4 linked regions of the Homo sapiens genome follow. The protein of the gene in region 1 interacts with the protein of each later gene in a pairwise test. Each region holds a gene or a part of one and is shown in the gene's direction. Other genes may lie near its edges.

Region 1 (4,554 bases):
AATTCCACAATTGATCATGAATAAGCCTTCTTGTCTTAGGAAGATATCGTCATTGTTATTTTATTATTCTTACTATTATTTAGGTTTTTTTTTTTTAACAGAAGTTTCGATTGTTGAATTGTATGGGAATTAACAGAAGTGTGTGACAGGTTCCAAAAAGTGGGGATATAACAAAAGTCCAAAGTAAAATATTCACTGTAAGCATAGCTTACAACTTAGCCTGGGTGTATTTTAAAAATTTTTATGTTTCCCTATTTTTCTCTCTCTGTTTTTTAGAGAGTATACATTAGTGTAACACATATCTTTATTGTATTTTGTATGTTTTCTTGAAATCTGGGATTAGAAGAGTCCATTACCATCCTAGACATCTAATAACATATCTTCTTGCCATATTTCTACTAAGGACCAACCTGACTTGAATTTTAAAACAAAAAAATGCGAAGCAATTGCAAACTAAGTGTGTTCTAAAAGCCTCGTTCATTTTTCCATGTGAATCATTTGAAGAAGATTGTATCAGTGAAGAAAGGGAAAAAAGTTTCTCAGTTAACAAAAGTATCTTTATTCTTTATATTAAAAGAAGATTACAATCTAAATTATTTCTCATGAAGTCTAAGGTTTTTGGTTAGGGAATGTAAGATGACAGATAATTCATATGATAGGGCTTTTATGATACATATACCATGCAAATGACCGTGGGGTTGTCATTGGCCATTTTATCTTGTCACAGGACAAATCCCAGGATACAGTCTTTCTGTCATAGTGAAAACAGAGCTTTTTTCTTGATTATAGCCCAGGTTTTAGTAGTATCAAAACCATAGTTTCTAGTTTTGAAATCTGAGTTACCCCATGAATGGGCAGGGGGCTGAGGTCACAGAGCCAAGAGGGCAGCTCTGGAACCATGGATCTGGGGCTGGGAAGCGTCAGTCCTGTGACTTTTGTTTCCAAGCTTGCTTTCTCATGCCTCTGCGGGCAGAATGCTCTCCGTTTAGGACCTGAGCACCGCTCCCCACATGGACGCCTTGCTTTTCCCTGCCAGAGAACCTGCACAGCTCCTCCCTGGTCTGCTTTGGATCTCTGTGGAGATGCATCTCATCAGTGAGGCCTCCCTGACCACTTAATCTAAAGAGTTTCCCCTACAACCATCTCTGTCTCCACATTTCCTATTCCCCTTCCCTGTTTTTTTTTTTTCCCTCCAGGCCACTTATGACTGTTTATTATGCCACATATAATTTACTTGTTTAATGTTGTATGGTCTATCTCTCCCACCAGAATGTAATGTTCCTTGAGGGCAGGGCTTGTGTTTTTTTCACTGTAGGATCTTTAGCACCTAGAATGGTGTCTGCATATTGTAGGCGTTCAGGAAATGTTTTTGAATAAACAAATGATGAATGAATTTAACGTAAAGTTCTTCCAACAGAAATTTTATATGACTTTCTAGTGCTCTAAGTAAGAGTTGAACATTTTTCTCTTATCTTTATTTGTAGAATGACAAAGGACAGATCCCTGCTGATGTTGTTCCAGACCCAGTAGATATGCCGTTAGAGATGGCTGACGCCGCAGCCACTGCTAAGGAAATCAAGCAGATGCTTCTAGATGCGGTGCCTCTGTCATGTAACATCTCAAAGGCCATGCTCCCAAATTATGATCATGTCACTGGCAAGGCAATGCTTACGTCACTTGGCCTGAAGTTGGGGGATCGTGTTGTTATTGCAGGACAGAAGGTACAGTAAGTAACTGCAATCTCTGAAGCCAGGGTTGTTATGTCCATGACCTATGTTCAAGGACACAGTATGGTCAGAGTTTTGAGTTTTTGAAAAAGGTTCAACATGTAGGTAGAAAGATGCTTAATGGAAAATGTAAAACTTAGATATGAATTTACTGTTAAGTTATGCTTTAAGAATATAAACTACTTGAACTTAATAAAGAAGACATCTTTATTTGAATAAAGAGTGGAGTGGAGTAGAACTCTTGAGTGAATTTAGAAGCATGAGCTAAGGGATGATCTAAGGTGGAGGATTATCTTTGCAGTCCCCTCTTTCCCCAGTGGTACTTCTCTGACTGCTGCTCCTCCATAGAAATGGAGCACAGGAGACCCTTGCTGTTCATGGGTGTTTGTCTTTGGGTTCCCACAAATAGGGCAGTCTGAGATATTATGTAACCTGGTGATAAGGATTTGTGTGGAAAAGAGGACTCCTACTCCCATCATCCAGACACCTTTTTTCCTCCCAAGCTTTTGTTTCCATATTGTATTCATTTATTGCCAGTTGCTTTTTAAAAATATCTCATATGGGAGGTTTTCTTGTTTTTTCTTTTTTTAATTATTTTATTATACTTTAAGTTCTGGAATACATGCACAGAACATGCAGGTTTGTTACGTAGGCATACGTGTGCCATGGTGATTTGCTGCACCCATCAACCCGTCATCTACATTAGGTATTTCTCCTAATGCTATCCCTCCCCTAGCCCTGTCCCTTCAGTTTTTTCTTAATATTGAGGTTAATAGGGAGCTTGGTATGGAGAATGGAACAGGGAATTCCTGCTTGGATATTGAGTTTCCCAACATAGTTATATCCCTTTTTTTTTTTTTTTTTTTTTTTGAGAAGAGTCTCACTTTGATGCCTAGGCTGGAGTGCAGTGGCACAGTCATAGGTCACTGTAGCCCCGAACTCCTGGGCTCAAGCAACCCTCCTGCCTCAGCCCCTGTAGTAGCTGGAACTACAGGTGTGTGCTACTATCCAGCTAATTAGGATTCTTATGTCTTCTTGGAAATTGACTCCCTTATTATTATTTAATGTTCTTTTTCATCCTTGGTAATGTTCCTGGCTCTGAAGTGAGAGCAAGGAACATTACCAAGCATAAAAAGGTAATGTTGAGAGAGCGAATTTTTAAAATTCACTTTGAGAGAGTGAATTTTTAAAAACTCCCATGGTGAAGTAAAGTTGCAAGAGTAGGACCCTTGGAATTACTAATAATTCCCCAAAATTATTCTGGTTTATATTTTCTTTAGGTTGGTACATTAAGATTTTGTGGAACAACTGAATTTGCAAGTGGGCAGTGGGCTGGCATTGAACTGGATGAACCAGAAGGAAAAAATAATGGAAGTGTTGGAAAAGTCCAGTACTTTAAATGTGCCCCCAAGTATGGTAAGGTTGATATTATTTAACTCGGTAAGAATTAATTAAAAATAATCAAGTTTTACTCTTTTACAGTTGTTAAATAAAACTTTTCTCCTGATTTCTTATGTGATAAATGAGGGGCATGTGGATGTAGGGAGGACTTTTTAAAGATAGGAGATAGTTATATTTATTTACACTGACGAGAGGCGACGTGAGAGGGAGAAATGGTGGTTGCAGGAGAGAAAGGGGACATTTCCAGGAGGAAAGTCCTGAAAAACTTGAAAGGGAAAAGGATTTCAGTATAAGAGTTAGCCTTGCATTAGATCAGGCGCAGCTTTCCACTATTTATTTATTTGTTTGAGACGGAGTCTTGCTCTGTCGCCCAGGCTATAGTGCAGTGGCTCGATCTCGGCTCACTGCAACCTCTGCCTCCCAGGTTCAAGCGATTCTCCTGCCTCAGCCTCCCGAGTAGCTGGGATTACAGGCATTTGCCACCATGGCTGGATAATTGTTGTATTTTCAGTAGAGACAGGGTTTCGCCATGTTGGCCAGACTGGTCTCGACCTCCTGACCTCAGGTTATCTGCCCACCTTGGCCTCCCAAAGTGCAGGGATTACAGGCATGAGCCACTGTGCCTGGCCAACCATGAATTTCAGAGGCCATGATGGAAAGGTTTAGGAGGGTGTCTGGTAGTGACTGGTGAAGAGGGCATCTGATGGAATTGTCTCAATGATGTTTTTGGGAAAGTGTCTTTCTTGGGACTGGTCTCTTGGGTGGCTTTTAGTGGGGAGACAGTGATGAGAGGGGTTTTTTCGTTAGTAGGCTGTGAGCTGTTGGGCTGCCCTTGATTCTTGCTGCCAGCAGTATAGTGATTGGGAGAAGGCCTCTGACCAGGGGCACGCCCAGCTCTGCAGACCTCCCTCAAATCCTGCACCTAGTAGTGTTGTGGCCAAGGGAGGGACTTGGTTATCAAGGAAGTACAGAGCTCTGGAGGTCATGAAGAACTTGGAAAACTGGAAAAATCAAGCAAGGCCAACTTTATGACCGCATTCCTGAGGTTTCTTTGAAACTCTGCGAGGTTTCTTTCTCTTTCTGACAAATGTTTAAGTAAATTCTGACAAATGTTTAAGTAAATTCTTTCTGACATGTTTAGGTAAATTTATTCTTCCTCTCTCTCACACACACCTATCCTGTCTATTGATTTCAATTTGATTTTGTAGTCACTTACTATGTTGTGAATACTTTTCCTTGAAATGAAATATTCTTTTAGAACATTGTTTTCCACGATTGTGTAGTATTCATCTTGTGGCCTGATGGTGAGGTGGTGTGGTATGATGATGATGATGAAGCGGATGGACTTTGGAGTCTGACTGCTTTTGTGTGATTCGATTTCTTTACTTACCAGCTATGTGACTGTCTTTCTCTTCTTGTGCCTCAG
Region 2 (4,982 bases), on another chromosome or scaffold:
GGTGCGCCCCTCAGGACCCCTGGCCTGGGTGAGGGCTTGGGTGGGCACAGGCTTCCTAGGCCTGCAGACTGAACCACGTGTAACCAGAATGGTGGGCTCAGGGCTCCGTTAGAGAAGCCGGCAGAGCGAGCCTGGAAAAGGAGGTTGGCCCCACCATGGGAGAGGATGGGGTGGGCCCGCTGACCCCCAGGGACCCGCTCACGTGCCTCTGAGGGAGCAGTTCTGCAGATGTCCCCAGTGGGCAGGAAGCTGGTCACAGATATCCAGGGGCCAGGGCTGTTTGTGGCCCCCAAAGCCTTGCCCATCGAGGACATGGACAGGGAGGGGAAGGCGTGGAATGCAGACGAAGCCACAGACCCAGAGCAGGAGGACGGCGACGTTCCCAGCAACCCCAGCTCCAAGAGCCTTCCCAGTGCCGGGCACTCAGCGGGAGGCAGGCAGGGGACCGGCCCTGTCCTTTGAAATGGCAGCCTGGGGCCAGCCCGCCTTGTCGTGTGACCCCAGGCACACCTTGCCTGTCCCTGGGCTCTGCGGCCTCGCTCTTCCATGGAGGGGTGGAATGAGGTGCCAACCACAGCCTTCCGGAAGGCCCCCGACCCGGCCCCAGGGCACTGTGAGCCCCTGCCGGGTTATCCTGTTGTCCCTGACTCTAAGCCTGGGGAGGACAGGGACCTCATCTGTGCCTCTCGGGACTCACCCCTGTCCTGGGCGCTGGCCAAGAAGGAACCAATCTGTGCCTGAACCGAAGAGTTCCGCAGACACCACCGCCCACGCTCAGCCTGTGGGGTCTGAGGGGAGTGAGGGGGTGGGTCAGGGTGCCAGACTGCTCTCCCCCACCTGGTGCCTCAGTTTCCCTGATCCAAGAGGCAGGGTTATCCAATCTGGTGGCCTCACTGGCCAGCATACAGGCCATCAGAGGCCAGGAAGGATGTCTGCTAGTCGGACGGTGCCACCTGGAGTCCTGAGGAAAGAAAACCAGTCTCCACACGCCACAATGAGCCTGTGGGAGATGCTGGCACAGATGGTAACGGCCACTGCGAGTGCCCAGGGTGGGGCCCCAGGGTTAGAAAGGGCCTAGAGGGAGGACCCAGACCCTTACCCAGCAAACTCCATGTGTAGCCCCCTGCAATGGCAGCAGCCCCGGGGGGAGGTATGGCAGACTCGGACTGCAGCCAGCCTGGCCATGTCCCTCGCCCGCTTATTGTGTAGGCCCCAACGGTGTCTAGCCAGGAAAGCAGAGCTGGCCTCTAAGAGGGTCTCAGATAGGGTGGGGGCCTGGCCTCAGTTCCATGGGGGGTCTCCGAGGCCTCAGGCTGCTTCCTCCCCGGGGGAGACAGCGAAGGGCCTGGGGCATTGGGCCGGGCGGCGGGAGGGGACCCCGGCTGTGCGGACCCTTTTCCTGGACAAATGTTTACTCCCACAGAACATCTCAGAGAGAAGGGGCGGGGGGGTGGGAAACCCGGCAGCCTGGCTCTGGGGACCCCCACACTAGTTTGGCCCAAAGAGAGCCTCGGCTTGGTGCCCCGGGGCCACCCAACACCTTCCTCCTCCCTCCTCAGCCCATCCAGAATGTACCCGCTGCTGGGAGTAAAAATAGCAGCTGACACCTCCTGGAGGCGGAGGGAGGACCTTGCCTCCTTCTCCAAGCACGTCCTCTGCATCCTGGCCTCCTTCAGCCTCCTCCTCTGGCCATTCCTATACTTGGTAAGGGGCCTGCACGGGCATAGCCCCCCCCAGCAAGACTCCGCACACACCCCGGCCACCCAGTCACTGGCCAATGGGCTCCTAGGAAGATCAAATGTCACTATAACACGAGGGTGTGAGCCGGGCGCCAGTGCCTGCAGCCGGTGCTGTCCACAGGGAGCTCCAGCCCTTCTCACACTCGACCCGCAGGTGGGTATAGGCAGGAGCGGCCACCCAGGACTGGGGCCGACGGGGCCTCCTGCGTGCGGGTGGACAGCCCCTCGTTCCAGGGACACTCTGGGGTCCTGGGGCGCTGAGGTCCCAGGTCCGTGTGGTGCCGAGCATCTCGAAGCATCATGGCTCGGAGCCCCCAGGTGGCTGCTCCAGCGTCCGGAGAGTCTGGGATGCGGACATGGTGGTGTGATGGTCTCAGCACCGGGAGGATGCAGAAGAAGGCAGAGTGTGGGAGGCCAGGAGGGGGCAAGTCGGGGCTCAGGGAAGCTCAGTGCTAGGGAGTGGCCTGAGGGCAGGAGGCAGAGAGGTGCGGGCTGTGAGCGGCAGGGAAGAGGCTGTGCAGGGGTGCTGCCAGGGCTTAGGTTGCCAGCTTGTGGTCGCCATGCAGACATTTGCCCAGGCCCGTCCTGGCCTTGCCATGCAGCTCTCGCACCTGGGCCTCCAACACCGCCATTTTGTAGAGATGAAAACGAGGACAGGAGGGCAGGGGCTCCTGTATGGCCAGCCCGAGTGTGTTGGGGTGGGGGCGTCTAAAGCCCACGCAGCCTTGGGGGCCAGCGTCTGGAGGTGCAGGACAGAAGTGGACAGGGGCTGGACTGGGGCAGGACGGGGCAAGAGTGAGGGGCTGGGCTTCATCGCGTCCCCCTGGCTGGAGGCTGGAGAAGCTGGCGCTCGTAAGAGCCCCCACCCACCCTCCCTGCCCTGGACACGGTCCCCCTGACTTGTGCCGTCTGATCAGGCCTTGGCTGCCCCTCCTGAAGTCCACGGAGGGACATGGGGCAAAGCAAAGGTTGGCTGGGTGGAGAACAGGTCTGGGGGCATGGTCAGGGCCACAGCAAGCAAGGGGCAGCGGCTTTTGCCTCCCCACCCTGCCCTGGCCCCGTCACCTCCCAAGGAGGGAAAGGTGATGCATACGTGCCCGAAGAAACTGACCGCATAGGTTATTTTCACGCAGCCCCTCCAAGGCAGGCACTAACTGGACACCTGCTTTGCGTCTCAGCTGTTGAAATGCCATCCCCTGCCCCCAGCACACCCCTGCCCCCAGCACACCCCTGCCACCAGCCCCTCCCCGCAACAGAGGCAATGACACAGGCCATACTGGGGGGAACAGAACAGCCTTGTGTTGCTTCCAGGCGCTCAGCAGAAAACCAGGTGCCTCAGTTTCCCCACTTGGAGAGTGGGCCTTTCCAGCGCACGTCGGGGGGCCTGGAGGTCACCCTGCCTGAGGGTGTTGGGGCACCCATGTGACTCTGGCCTGGGGGGACAGGAGGGAAATATGAGGAGCTGGGGAGGGCCTGGGTGCCCGAGGGTGAGGGGGCAGCTGTGGGCCAAGGAGGGCTGGGCTGTCACACCCGCCTCACCCACGTCTTGGGTTTCTGGGCAGAAACGTCTTGCCTATTTCTGGACACCTCAGCTGCCACTGGCTCCTTATAAATAACCCACCCCAGGCGAGGGCCACGCTGCCCCCATCTTGTGGCAGCCGACAGGTGTCTGCCCCGCCAGCGTCGGGCTGGGCACAGCAGGGCGGGGCCAGGCTCCGCTCCCTCCCTTCACTGACCCTCCTCCTCCTTACAGAGGATGGCCCTAGAGGAGTCTGTGGCGTTTGGGGCCTGAACCAGCTGGGAGGACAGCACGAGGGGCTGGTGGGCAGCCTGGGACTGGGTCACACCGGGGGCCTGGACAACACTGGCTCGTGGGGCTGAGGACTGAGGAGAGCCTGGCCCAGCCGTGGCAGTTACAAGAGGCTTAACCTGAGGGGCAGCAGAGTCTCAGGAAGAGATTCTGGGATAGGAAAAAGCTACCCCCGTTGCCTGGAAGACAGCTATCTGCTGGGTAATTTTGCATGGAGCTTAAGTTGCTCTGGGAAAATTAACATTCTTGACAGAGGGTTTGGAAAACGGTTCCCACCTCAGCAGTGCAACGTAGATGCATTTTTAGCTGATGAACGTGTGTTTTCCTTATACAACACTCCCAGGGGGGACCGTAGCTATTGTCTTCGAGTAATCTGTACTGTGTTGTAATGAACTTTGTTTTCTAAAACCCTGGCCAACATGCCGGTGCAGCTGCTCAGAGCCTCCCCAGGCCTGGCCGCCCAGTGTGCACGGTGGCCAGCTCACAGAGAGACGGTCCCCAGCATGCTGGCCTGGCGCCACCACCGCACATGGACAGGGCAGCCAGTCCTGGGCATGGAGCTTCCCCTAGACAGGGACAGATCCAGAGCATCCCCGGGACCAGGGAAAGCGGCCACAGGGAGGGAAATGGGGGGGCTGTTCTGTGGGCTCCTGCAGTCCAAGTATGCCTTGTACAGAGCCCGGCCCGGGGGGGTGCACGGGAAGCGGCCCAGACCCAACCCAACGTGCTCTGGGGCTCAGCCTCAATGTTTTCAGGGTACAGGGGTAACAAGAAGGAACAGCTTCCCTGCTCTGTGATCTTGGAGGAGGGGTCCTCAGAGGGGTGTGGTGGGACACACTCTGGGCACCCCATAGGAAAACAGGCACAGAAGGGAGCTTTGGGCTCAAATAGGGAAGAGGGGTTCTCATGGGGAATGGTAGGGTGAGCAGATTACTCATCTTGGGGAGCCAGTCTCGGTCATCCAGGGGCTCCCAGGGAGACCCCACCTACACCCACTGGGCAGAGAACACCCAGAGACAGGTTTCAGCTCCATCAGCGGGACCTTTCCAGTGTCTAGAGCGGGCTGGACGGCACACGGCCTGCATTCTGGATGACCCTCCTCAGGGGACGCCACGGAGAGGATGTCTGCCCTGGGTGGGGGTGGACGCCACGACCTTCCAACATCCCTTCCAGCTCCAAGATTCCAAGCTCCAGTCTGGAGCCAGGGCAGGAAGAGGGGACAGAGTCTGGGGCGCCAAGAGCTGGGAGGGGCCAGGAGCCCTGGAGAAAGGGGAGGCCCAAGGAGGTGGACTCACCCAAGGCCAGAGCTGGCCCCCAAACCCTGCCCGCGGTCCCCCACAGCGCTGCTCCAAGACCCCATCCCCCATCCTACACCCAGGCAGCTCGTAACTCTCTTTCCATCCTCTCTCTCTCTCTCTCTCTGAATCTCTCTC
Region 3 (4,554 bases), on another chromosome or scaffold:
ATTCTATAATTCTTTATATAACAGTCCTTAATCAGATATGTACTTTACAAATATTTTCTGTCAGTTTATGTCTTTTTCTTAACAGGTTCTTTTATAGTTCATACTTTTTATGTCCTATCTAAGAATCTTTACCTAATCCAAGGTAACAAAGATTTTTACTTTTTTTTTCCTGGAGATTTTATCTTTTTACCTCTTACATTTAGGTCTGTGAACAATTTCGAGTTAAGTTTTACATATGTTGTAAGAGTCAAGTTTCATTTCTTTGCATATTAATGTGCAATTGATCTAACAGTGTGTGGAAAGACTACTTTTTTCCCTTTGTTGAAAATCAATTGACCATAAATGTTTAAGTCAATTTCCTAGCCACATTCCATTGATCTAGCTTCATGTCTTTATACCGAGGATTGAAATCAGCTAGTGTGATACTTTAAACTTGGTCTTTTTTTTGAGACAGAGTCTTGCTCTGTCACCCAGGCTGGAGTGCAGTGGCTCGATCTTGGCTCACTACAAGCTCCGCCTCCTGGGTTCACACCATTCTCCTGCCTCAGCCTCCCGAGTAGCTGGGACTACAGGCACCCGCCACCACGCCCGGCTAATTTTTTTGTATTTTTTTAGTAGAGATGGGGTTTCACCGCGTTAGCCAGGATGGTCTCGATCTCCTGACCTTGTGATCTGCCCGCCTTGGCCTACCAAAGTGCTGGGATTACAGGCGTGAGCCACCGCGCCTGGCCGAAATTTGGTCTTTTTTAAAAAAATTTATAGTTATCCTGGCTATTCTGAACCCTTTCTATTTCCATAAAAATTTTAGAACTAGCTTGTCAATTTCTACAAAAAGACTTGGGATTTTGTGTTGAATCTATATATTATTTCAGGGAGAACTGACATGTTTACAATATGAATCTTCTCATCTGTGGTTCTGGTTTGTCTCCGTGTATTAAGCATTCTTTGATTCTCTCAGCAGTGATTTGTATTTTTTGGTGTTAGGTTTATCCTTAAATATTTCATATTTGTAATGCTATTTTAGATGATATTTTTATTTATTTTTACTTTTTATTTGTACAAATTTATGGGTACATATGCAGTTTTGTTACATGCATAGATTATGCTGCAGTCAAGTGAGGGCTTTTAAGGTATCCATCACCTGAATAACGTTCTTTGTCCTCATTAACGAATTTCTCATCATCCTCCCACCTCCTCATTCTTCCACTCCATTATGTATCATTCCACTCTGCATCTGTGTGAACACGTTTGTTTAGAACACACTTATGAGTCAGAACATCATACTTGTCTTTGTGTGCCTGGTTTGTTTAACCTAAGATAATGACCTCTAGTTCCATCCACGTTGCTGTATATGTCATGATTTCATTCATTTTTTTTTTGAGATGGAGTCTCACTCTGTCGCCCAGGCTGTAGTGCAGTGGTGAGATCTCGGCTTACTGCAAGTTCCGCCTCCGAGGTTCACGCCATTCTCCTGCCTCAGCCTCCCAAGTAGTTGGGACTACAGGTGCCCGCCACCACACCTGACTAACTTTTTTTTTGTATTTTCAGTAGAGACAGGGTTTCACAGTGTTAGCCAGGATGGCCTCGATCCCCCGACCTTGTGATCTGCCCGCCTCGGCCTCCCAAAGTGCTGGGATCACAGGGGTGAGCCACCACGCCCAGCCTGATTTCATTCTTTGTTATGGCTGAATAGTATTCCATTGTGTATATATACCACATTTTCTTTACCTGTTCATCCATTGATGGACACTTAGGTTGATTCCATATCTTTGCTGTTGTGAATAGTGCTGCAGTAAACATACTGGTGCACATATCTTTTAGATATATTAATTTCTTTTCTTTTTGTAAAAATCTAGTAGTGGGATTGCTAGATGGAAAGATAGTTCTATTTTTAATTCTTGGAGAAATCTCCATACTGTTTTCCATAGAGGCTGTACTAATTTACATTCCCACCAATGGTATATAAGAGTTCCCTTTTTTTCACATGATAACCAACATTGTCTGTCTTTTTAATAAAAGACATTCTGACTAGGATAAGGTGATATCTCATTGTGAATTTGATTTGCATTTCTCTTATGACTGGTAATGTTGAGCATTTTTTCATATACCTGTTGGGTGTATGCTTTTGAAAAATGTCTATTCATGTGTTTTGCCTACTTTTTAATAGGATTGTTAGATTTTTTTGGTTGTTGAATCGTTTGAGTTCCTTGTGTAGTCTGGATATTAGTCCCCTGTTGGATGAATAATTTGCAGATATTTTCTGTCATTCAACAGGATTGGTTGTCTCTTCAATCTGTTATTTCTTTTGCCATGCAGAAGCTTTTTAGTTTAATTGAGTCCCATTTGTCTGTTTTCTAGTATCTTTATAGTTTTGGGTCTTACACTTAAGTCTTTAATCCACCTTGAGTTGATTTTTATGTATTAGTGAGAGATAAGAGTTCAATTGCATTCTTCTGCATATGGATATCTAATTTTCTCAGCACCATTGATTGAAGAGGGTTTCGTTTCCACAGTGTATGTTCTTGTCGGCTTTGTCAAACATCAGTTGGCTGCAAGTATGCGGCTTTATTTCTGGGTTCTCTATGCTGTTCCATTGACCTGTGTGTCTTATTTTTATACCAGTAACCTGCTGTTCTGGTTAGTATAGTCTTGTAATATAATTTGAAGTTAGATAATGTGATGCCTCTAGCTTTATTCTTTTTGCTCAGCATTGCTTTGGCTATTGGGGCTTCTTTTTGGTTCCATATGAATTTTAGGATTGTTTTTTCTAATTTTGCAAAAAATTAACTTGGTATTTTGATAGGGATTGTATAGAATATGTAGGCTGCTTTGTACAGTATGGTCATTTTAATGATATTCTTCTGAATATCCAGTGATCATGGGATGTTTTTCCATTTGTGTCATGTATAATTTCTTTTAGCTGTGTTTTGTAGTTCTCCTTGTAGGGATTTTACCTCTGGTTAAATATATTCCTAGTTTGTGTGTGTGTGTATGTGTGTGTTTATAATTTCTTTTTTCTTTTTTTCTTTTTTGAGACGGAGTCTCACTCTGTCACCCAGGCTGGAGTGCAGTGGCACAATCTCGGCTTACTACAACCTCCGGCTCCCAGGTTCAAGCACTTCTCCTGCCTGAGCCTCCAGAGTAGCTGGGACTACAAGTGCGCACCACTATGCCCAGCTAATTTTTGTGTGTGTGTGTATTTTTAGTAGAGACAGGGTTTCACCATGTTGGCCAGGATGGTCTCGATCTCTTGACCTTGTGATCCACCCACCTTGGCCTCCCAAAGTGCTGGGATTACAGGCGTGAGCCACCACACCCGGCCTTTTTTTTTTTGTTATTTGTAGCTATTGTAAATGGGATTGTGTTCTTGATTTGGTTTTCATTTTGAATCATTATTGGTGTGTAGAAACACTACTAATTTTTGTATGTTGATTTTGTATCTTGCAAGTTTACTGAATTCATTTACCAAATCTAAGGGTTTTTTTTTTTTTTTTTTTGAGACAGAATTTCATTCTGTTGCCCAGGCTGGAGTGCAATGGCACAATCTCAGCTCACTGCAAGCTCTGCCTCCCGGGTTCAAGTGATTCTCCTGCCTCAGCCTCCCGAGTAGCTGGGATTACAGGCATGTGCCACCACACCCGGCTAATTTTTGTAGTTTTAGTAGAGACAGGGTTTCACCATGTTGGCCAGCTGGTCTTGAACTACTGACCTCAGGTGATCTGGCCACCTCAGCCTCCCAAAGTGCTGGGATTACAGGCATGAGCTACCGCGCCTGGCAAATCTAAGAGTTTTTGTGGGGAGTCTTTAGGTTTTTCTAGATATAAGATCATATCATCAGGAAACAGGGATAATTTGACTCCTTCCTTTATAATTTTGATGCCTTTTGTTTCATTCTCTTGCCTGATTGCTCTGGTTAGGACTTCCAATACTATATTGAAGAGTGGTGAAAGTAGGCATCCTTGTTTTCTTCCAGTTCTTAAAGGAATGCTTTCATCTTTTCCCTATTCAGTATGATGTTAGTTACAGGTTTATCATATATGGCCTTTATTATTTTGAGGTATGATCTTTCTGTGCCTAGTTTACTAAGGGTTTTTCTTATGAAGGGATGTTGAATTTTATTAAATTCTTTTTTCGCGTCTATTAAGATGATCATATGGTTTTTGCCCTTCATTCTGTTGATATGATGTATCACATTTATTGATTTGCATATGTTGACCTATCCTTGCATTCCTGGTATAAAACCCACTTGATCATGGTGTATTATCTTTTTGATTTGGTGTTGGATTTGGTTTGCTAGTATTTTGTTGAGGATTTTTGCATTTGTGTTCATTAATCTGTAGTTTTCTTTTTATTCTGTATCCTTTGTTTTGTGTCCTTCTTTGGTTTTGTTATCAGGGCGATAATGGCCTTATAGAATAAGTTAGGGAGAGGCCTGTCCTTGATTTTTTGGAATAGTTTCAGGAGTATTGATATTACTTCTTCTTTGTACATTTGGTAGAATTCGGCTGTGAAGCCATCTGGTACTGGGCTTTTCTTTGTTGGGAGATTGTAAAA
Region 4 (5,044 bases), on another chromosome or scaffold:
AATTGCTGGGATTACAGTGTGAGCCACCACAGCCAGCCACTAGTCTTGAGCCGTAGCCAATGTGGGTATCTCGCGACTCCCATCCATCCATCCATCCATCTCCATCCCTGCAGTAATCTCAAGACAAGGGGTGGGAGGTGGGAGAAGAACCATTCCAGAGGGCTCTCTCCCCATACGTGTTCCTGAATTCTCCTGAGTCTGGTCACTGCCTGAGTCAGGTCTGGCCTGTCCAGCTCTGGAAGAGGCAGGCTGTGAGGCCCCTGACCTCACAAAGGACTGTCATGAACTCCGTCATCCCCGCAGTCCCCCCACCCTGCAGATAAGATGACTGACACAAAGATGGGGGATCTGCTCCTCGTCCTTCCACTTTTACTCATCAATGCCTTCATCACCATTATACTTGTTTACTGAGCACTTCCTAGATGCCAGGTTCTGTGCTCAGCACTTCATTTCCATTGCCTTATTTAATCTTTACAAAGACCCCAAGATACCTCATGGCACTACTATTTTTCTGATTTTGTAGGAGAGCAAATTAGATTTTAGAAAAGTTAAGTCACTAGCTCAAGGTTACTGGCTCCAGTTGCCGCCCTTCTATCATCATCCTTTTCTAATGTTTTTGGGCCAGAGGGGACACTATTCCCTTCCCAGGCCTTCCCAAGAGTGTCCAAGCCCCCAGATACGCACACATCCCAGGACAGGCTGCTCCCAGGTTGCCTGAGCCCCTGACCCTTTTGTTTCCCACTCTATCCCTCCAAATGGCCGCTTTCTGGAGCTGCTTAAAGGAAGGAGAAACTGGAGGGAAGGGGGGCAAGGGGGACAGTATCTCACTGGGCCTAATCTCTGGACAATGAAGAACTAGAGAACTGACCTTCTAGAAGTCAGGACAAAGGGCAGGGCCAGGGTGGGCAGGGCACAGCTGCCCCTCCTCCTCCCCCGCAACCCAAGTCCCTGCAGCAGCACCACCATCATCCATCCACCTTCCCAGCAAGCTCCCCACTCTGCCCCGGGCTGGGCCTGGCTTGGCTTGAAGCCCTCACCTCAGCTGGCACCAACAAGGGGGCTGGGAGTCCATTCTGGAGGGCTGGGAAGCAGGGCTACTTTGGGGAGTGGATTCTGGAGGGGGTCACCACCCCCTCATCGACAGACCACTGGGAGAAAATCCTTCTGGGGTGATTGGCGGGGTCGTCTGGTGGGGGTGGGGGAGGTCCAGGGCTAGGACCACCCAGTTTGGAGCCGGGAGGGACCCAGCAGATTAGAGACCTGGGTAAGGCAGCTGCGCAGGGCTGTAATTACCCCCAGAGGAGCAGGGAAGACACAAGCGCAGAATGCCGGAGCAAGGGCGGCAGCAAGGCTCCCAGACCTGTCCCCAGCCCAGCCATCAGCAGGGGAGAGAAAGCGAAACCCTTTCAGGGGTCTCCTTGTGACTCTCCTTCATGCCTCCCGACGTCCCCCGGGCCGCTTTGGTTTAGGTGGGTTTGAGCGAGAATTTGGACTCGAAGCTGCCCTCTCAGCCCCAGTGCCAGAGCCCCCAAACTCCAGGGTGGGAAAGGGGAGTCCCAGCCCTGCTCCCCCTCTCCCCCAGTCCCCGCGGCGGGTGAGTCACCCGAGCGCTCCCTACTTAGTCCTCAGGCGCTGCGGCGCGTACCAAGACGCGGACGCAGGGGGAGGCAGCTAGCGCGGCGAACTCCTGGAGCCGTGGAGCCCGCTCGGCCGTGGCCGTGGGAGAGGCGCCGGGAGGCTGCGGGCGCGGGGCTCCGGGGCGGGGGCGGCGCGAACGGCGCGGACGGCGCGGGCGCGGGGGGCTGGGTCCCGGGGCGCTGCTGGGGTGGACCCCCCCGCCTCGAACTTGGTACGCGCCAGCGAGAGGCCAGGCCCAGCCCGGGCGGTACAATAGGGTTGGGCCGAGGCCGGGACTGGGCCGGCGCCGGGCGGGGAACGGGTTCGCGACCGCAGCCGAGAGACCCCGGGCGACCGGCACCTCCGAGACTCGCGGGCCACCTGCCTCGACCTTCCCCGGAGCGCCCCCGCCTCCGAGTCGCTACTTGCCGGGCCGGGCCGGGCCGGGCGTGATGCGCCGCGGGACCCCTGTCCTGGCCACTGGCCGCCGCCGCCGCCGCCGCTGAGACCCCGAGACCCCCAGTGACGCCGCAGCCATGGAGAGCGGCCCGCGTGCGGAGCTGGGGGCGGGCGCACCCCCAGGTATGCCGGGAGCCACGCGGAGGCGAGATGGGGGTAGATGGAGGGGCTGCAGGGCGGCCGAGGATGAGGCCGGCCGGCTGGGCGGGGACCCCTCCGCTGCCGCGCCCTCTGACCACTTGGAAGTTTAAAAATAAAGGCTGCGGCGGCGGCGGCTCCAGGCTCGCGATGCATCCTCTGACAGCTGCCCCCTCCCCCACCCCGGGTGCCGGACGCATCGGGCGTCGGGAGCCGCAGGGACCCCGCGCGGGAGTTGTTGGGGTGACCCTTCTGCCCCAGCTTAGTGCCATCTCAGCTTCCCCGCCCCCACGTCCCTTCCCGATTCACCCCGGGCCTTGAAGATCCTCTTCTACTGAGCTAGGGCTTCCGTCCCCTTCCCCATCCCCCGTGGCACATGTGACCCCAGCCTGAGTGTGTCGGGGGTCCATATTCTCAGGCCTGGGCCCTGCATACCGACGCCTCGGCCTTAGTGCCCGTACCCTCAGGCCCTGGCCCAGACCTCGCCCCCACCCCATCCGTCCAGCTGCCGCGCAAAGGGCCTGTTGCTGCTGCGGGCCGGCGGGGAGGGGAAAGGAGGGAGGGGAGGAGAGAGGGAGGTCTCTAGCCGCTGCTGCCAAGTAACCCGCCGGATAAAGGCGAGGGGGAGGGGGAGGCGGCATTGTTTGGGGTGAGGGCGGGAGCTGGGGAGTGGGCCGCCTCCCCTGCAGCCAGGCCTACTCTGGAGCCCACCCAGCCTGATTCGGGGAGGAGGGGGACAGAAGTAAATCTGCTTCTCCTGCCTGCCCTCCTTCCCAGCCTCTCTGGGCCCCAATCTCCCACTAGAGAATGAGGTAAAGGCTCCAAGCCGGCACTCCCTGGACCTGCCACATCATTCCCCAGCCTGAGGCTTTGATACCTCCCCCCTTACTCTCTTTTTTTCTCTCTTTCTGCCCACACCTTAGACCACCAAAGCTCCCCTCCCCTCCCTCACCCCACCAACCACCAGTGCTCAGGACTTCTGCAAATCCCATTCGGATCTGGGAGCAGCTGATGAGGGGGTGGGGACAGGTTTCTGGTTGGGCTTGGTTTTGGAGGGAGGCGATTTCTCTTTCTTCCTGGAAGGGGAGGGAAGAACATGATTATTGAAGACCCAAGTTCTGTTCCCATTGACTCAGGGGGGAGGTGGCCCCATCCCCACACCCCCATGGAGTCCTGAGCCTAATCCTGTCACCTCCCTGCCCCTTGGGGTGTGGGCACAGGATGAAACAGTTCGTGTGGGTGCGGAGAGCCCAGGATAAGGTGGGGCCAATGGGCTGTGGGTGGGCTCCTCCCCATGCCAGCGAGGATGCTTCTAGGGGACTGTCTGGGTGTGGGACCTGGGAGAACAGGGAGGGGAGGCTACCATCAGACTGGTGGGTTTCAGGAGGCTTGTAGGCTGGGCTGGAAACAAGGGTGGCTGGGTCTGTCCTGGTTTGGCTGAACCTGAGAGGGGACACCCAGGGAGGCCCAGCCTGAGTCCAACCTCAGCTTACTGGCCCTCTGCACCTGAGGGCCTCTGGCACTGGATAGTTGGGGGCCTGAATGGGGGTGGTGACTGGGATACAGAGCCTGAGCTGGTGGCTAGTTTATAATTAGGATACTTGGGTAGGATGCCTAGACTGAATATGAGAGCATGGGTGAGATGCTTGGCTCTCCTAGGGGCAGGGGGGATGTTCGGTGGGCGGGGAGGGCTGCGTCAGGGGCCGGTGGGCAGACTGCATATAGGCTTCTTGCATTGAGAGGACTCTTCTATACACAGGGATCTAGATGGAGTCACATGAGAACCTGGATCAGGATGGTGGCAGTTCCCCACACAGAATAGTCAAAGGTGACAGGAGTCCTCTGTGGGGCTTTCTGGGAGTAAATGTGCTCACAGCATGTGCCCTGTGATAGTCTGAGGCATGGGCCTGACACTCCGAGAGCATGTGACACGAACCCTGCTCCCTCTGAGTTCCTTTTTGCACTTGGACACTGAGCAGTAACAGGGGGTGGTGTGGAGTAGAGGACAAGTGTGGGGACCACTTTCAGGTCAGAAAACCTGGATGGAAATCCCAGTTAGCCATGTACTGGCTACTGGACTGGAGCAAGTGACTTACCTCCTGGAGCCACAGTTTCTGCCCCTGGAAAATAGGGGCAGTGTTGTCAACCTTGTGGGGTTAATGTGAGGGTTAGAGATGATTTAACTCAAGGAATCTGGCACGCAGACACCAGACACCTGCAATAAAGTGTTATTACCATTATTGTGGTTATGCTTCTGCAACCGGTGCCAGCAGGGAGGTATGAAATATAGGGGAGGGTGGGAGCAGGAATTGGAAGTCGATTTGTTTAAGAGTGTAGATTTTGGAATTAAACAGTTTAAGTCTCCACTTCGTAACTTACCTCTGTGTGACCTCAGTAAGTTGCTTAACCTAAGTCTTAAGTTTGCTCATCTGTAAAATGAGAATAATGCTAGAAATTATCTCATAGAGACATTGGCATCCTTAAATTAGATGAAAACAGAAAACACTTAGACTAGGCCCTGGCACATAGCCAGTGCCCAATAAGTGCTAGCCATTTGTTATTTATTTATTTATTTATTTATTTATTTATTTATTTTGAGACAGAGTCTTGCTCTTGTCACCCAGGCTGGAGTGCAATGCCACGATCTCGGCACACTGCAACCTCCGCCTCCCAGGTTCAAGCGATTCTCTTGCCTCAGCCTCCCGAGTAGCTGGGATTACAGGCGCCTGCCACCGCGCCCGGCTAATTTTTGTATTTTTAGTAGAGACAGGGTTTTGCCACATTGGCCGGGCTGGTCTCGAACTCCTGACCTCGTGATCTTCCCACCTTG

The links.
Region 2: the proteins of CLIP4 (region 1) and TNNT3 interact in a two-hybrid assay, tested with the Homo sapiens proteins (one large-scale study listed by BioGRID and IntAct).
Region 3: the proteins of CLIP4 (region 1) and DCAF6 interact in a two-hybrid assay, tested with the Homo sapiens proteins (one large-scale study listed by BioGRID and IntAct).
Region 4: the proteins of CLIP4 (region 1) and MAP7D1 interact in a two-hybrid assay, tested with the Homo sapiens proteins (one large-scale study listed by BioGRID and IntAct).

Annotation. Positions count from the first base shown.
Region 1 is NC_000002.12:29,142,225-29,146,778, forward strand, and holds part of CLIP4 (CAP-Gly domain-containing linker protein 4), read left to right. Parts: intron 1-1,484; coding exon 1,485-1,721; intron 1,722-3,007; coding exon 3,008-3,143; intron 3,144-4,554.
Region 2 is NC_000011.10:1,917,870-1,922,851, forward strand, and holds the start of TNNT3 (troponin T, fast skeletal muscle), read left to right. Parts: upstream 1-1,833; 5' UTR 1,834-1,893; intron 1,894-3,492; exon of another isoform or gene 3,493-3,750; intron 3,751-4,961; exon of another isoform or gene 4,962-4,982. UniProt on the Homo sapiens protein: Troponin T is the tropomyosin-binding subunit of troponin, the thin filament regulatory complex which confers calcium-sensitivity to striated muscle actomyosin ATPase activity.
Region 3 is NC_000001.11:167,942,478-167,947,031, forward strand, and holds part of DCAF6 (DDB1- and CUL4-associated factor 6), read left to right. Parts: intron 1-4,554. UniProt on the Homo sapiens protein: Ligand-dependent coactivator of nuclear receptors. Enhance transcriptional activity of the nuclear receptors NR3C1 and AR. May function as a substrate receptor for CUL4-DDB1 E3 ubiquitin-protein ligase complex.
Region 4 is NC_000001.11:36,154,265-36,159,308, forward strand, and holds the start of MAP7D1 (MAP7 domain-containing protein 1), read left to right. Parts: upstream 1-1,895; 5' UTR 1,896-2,153; coding exon 2,154-2,199; intron 2,200-5,044. UniProt on the Homo sapiens protein: Microtubule-stabilizing protein involved in the control of cell motility and neurite outgrowth. Facilitate microtubule stabilization through the maintenance of acetylated stable microtubules.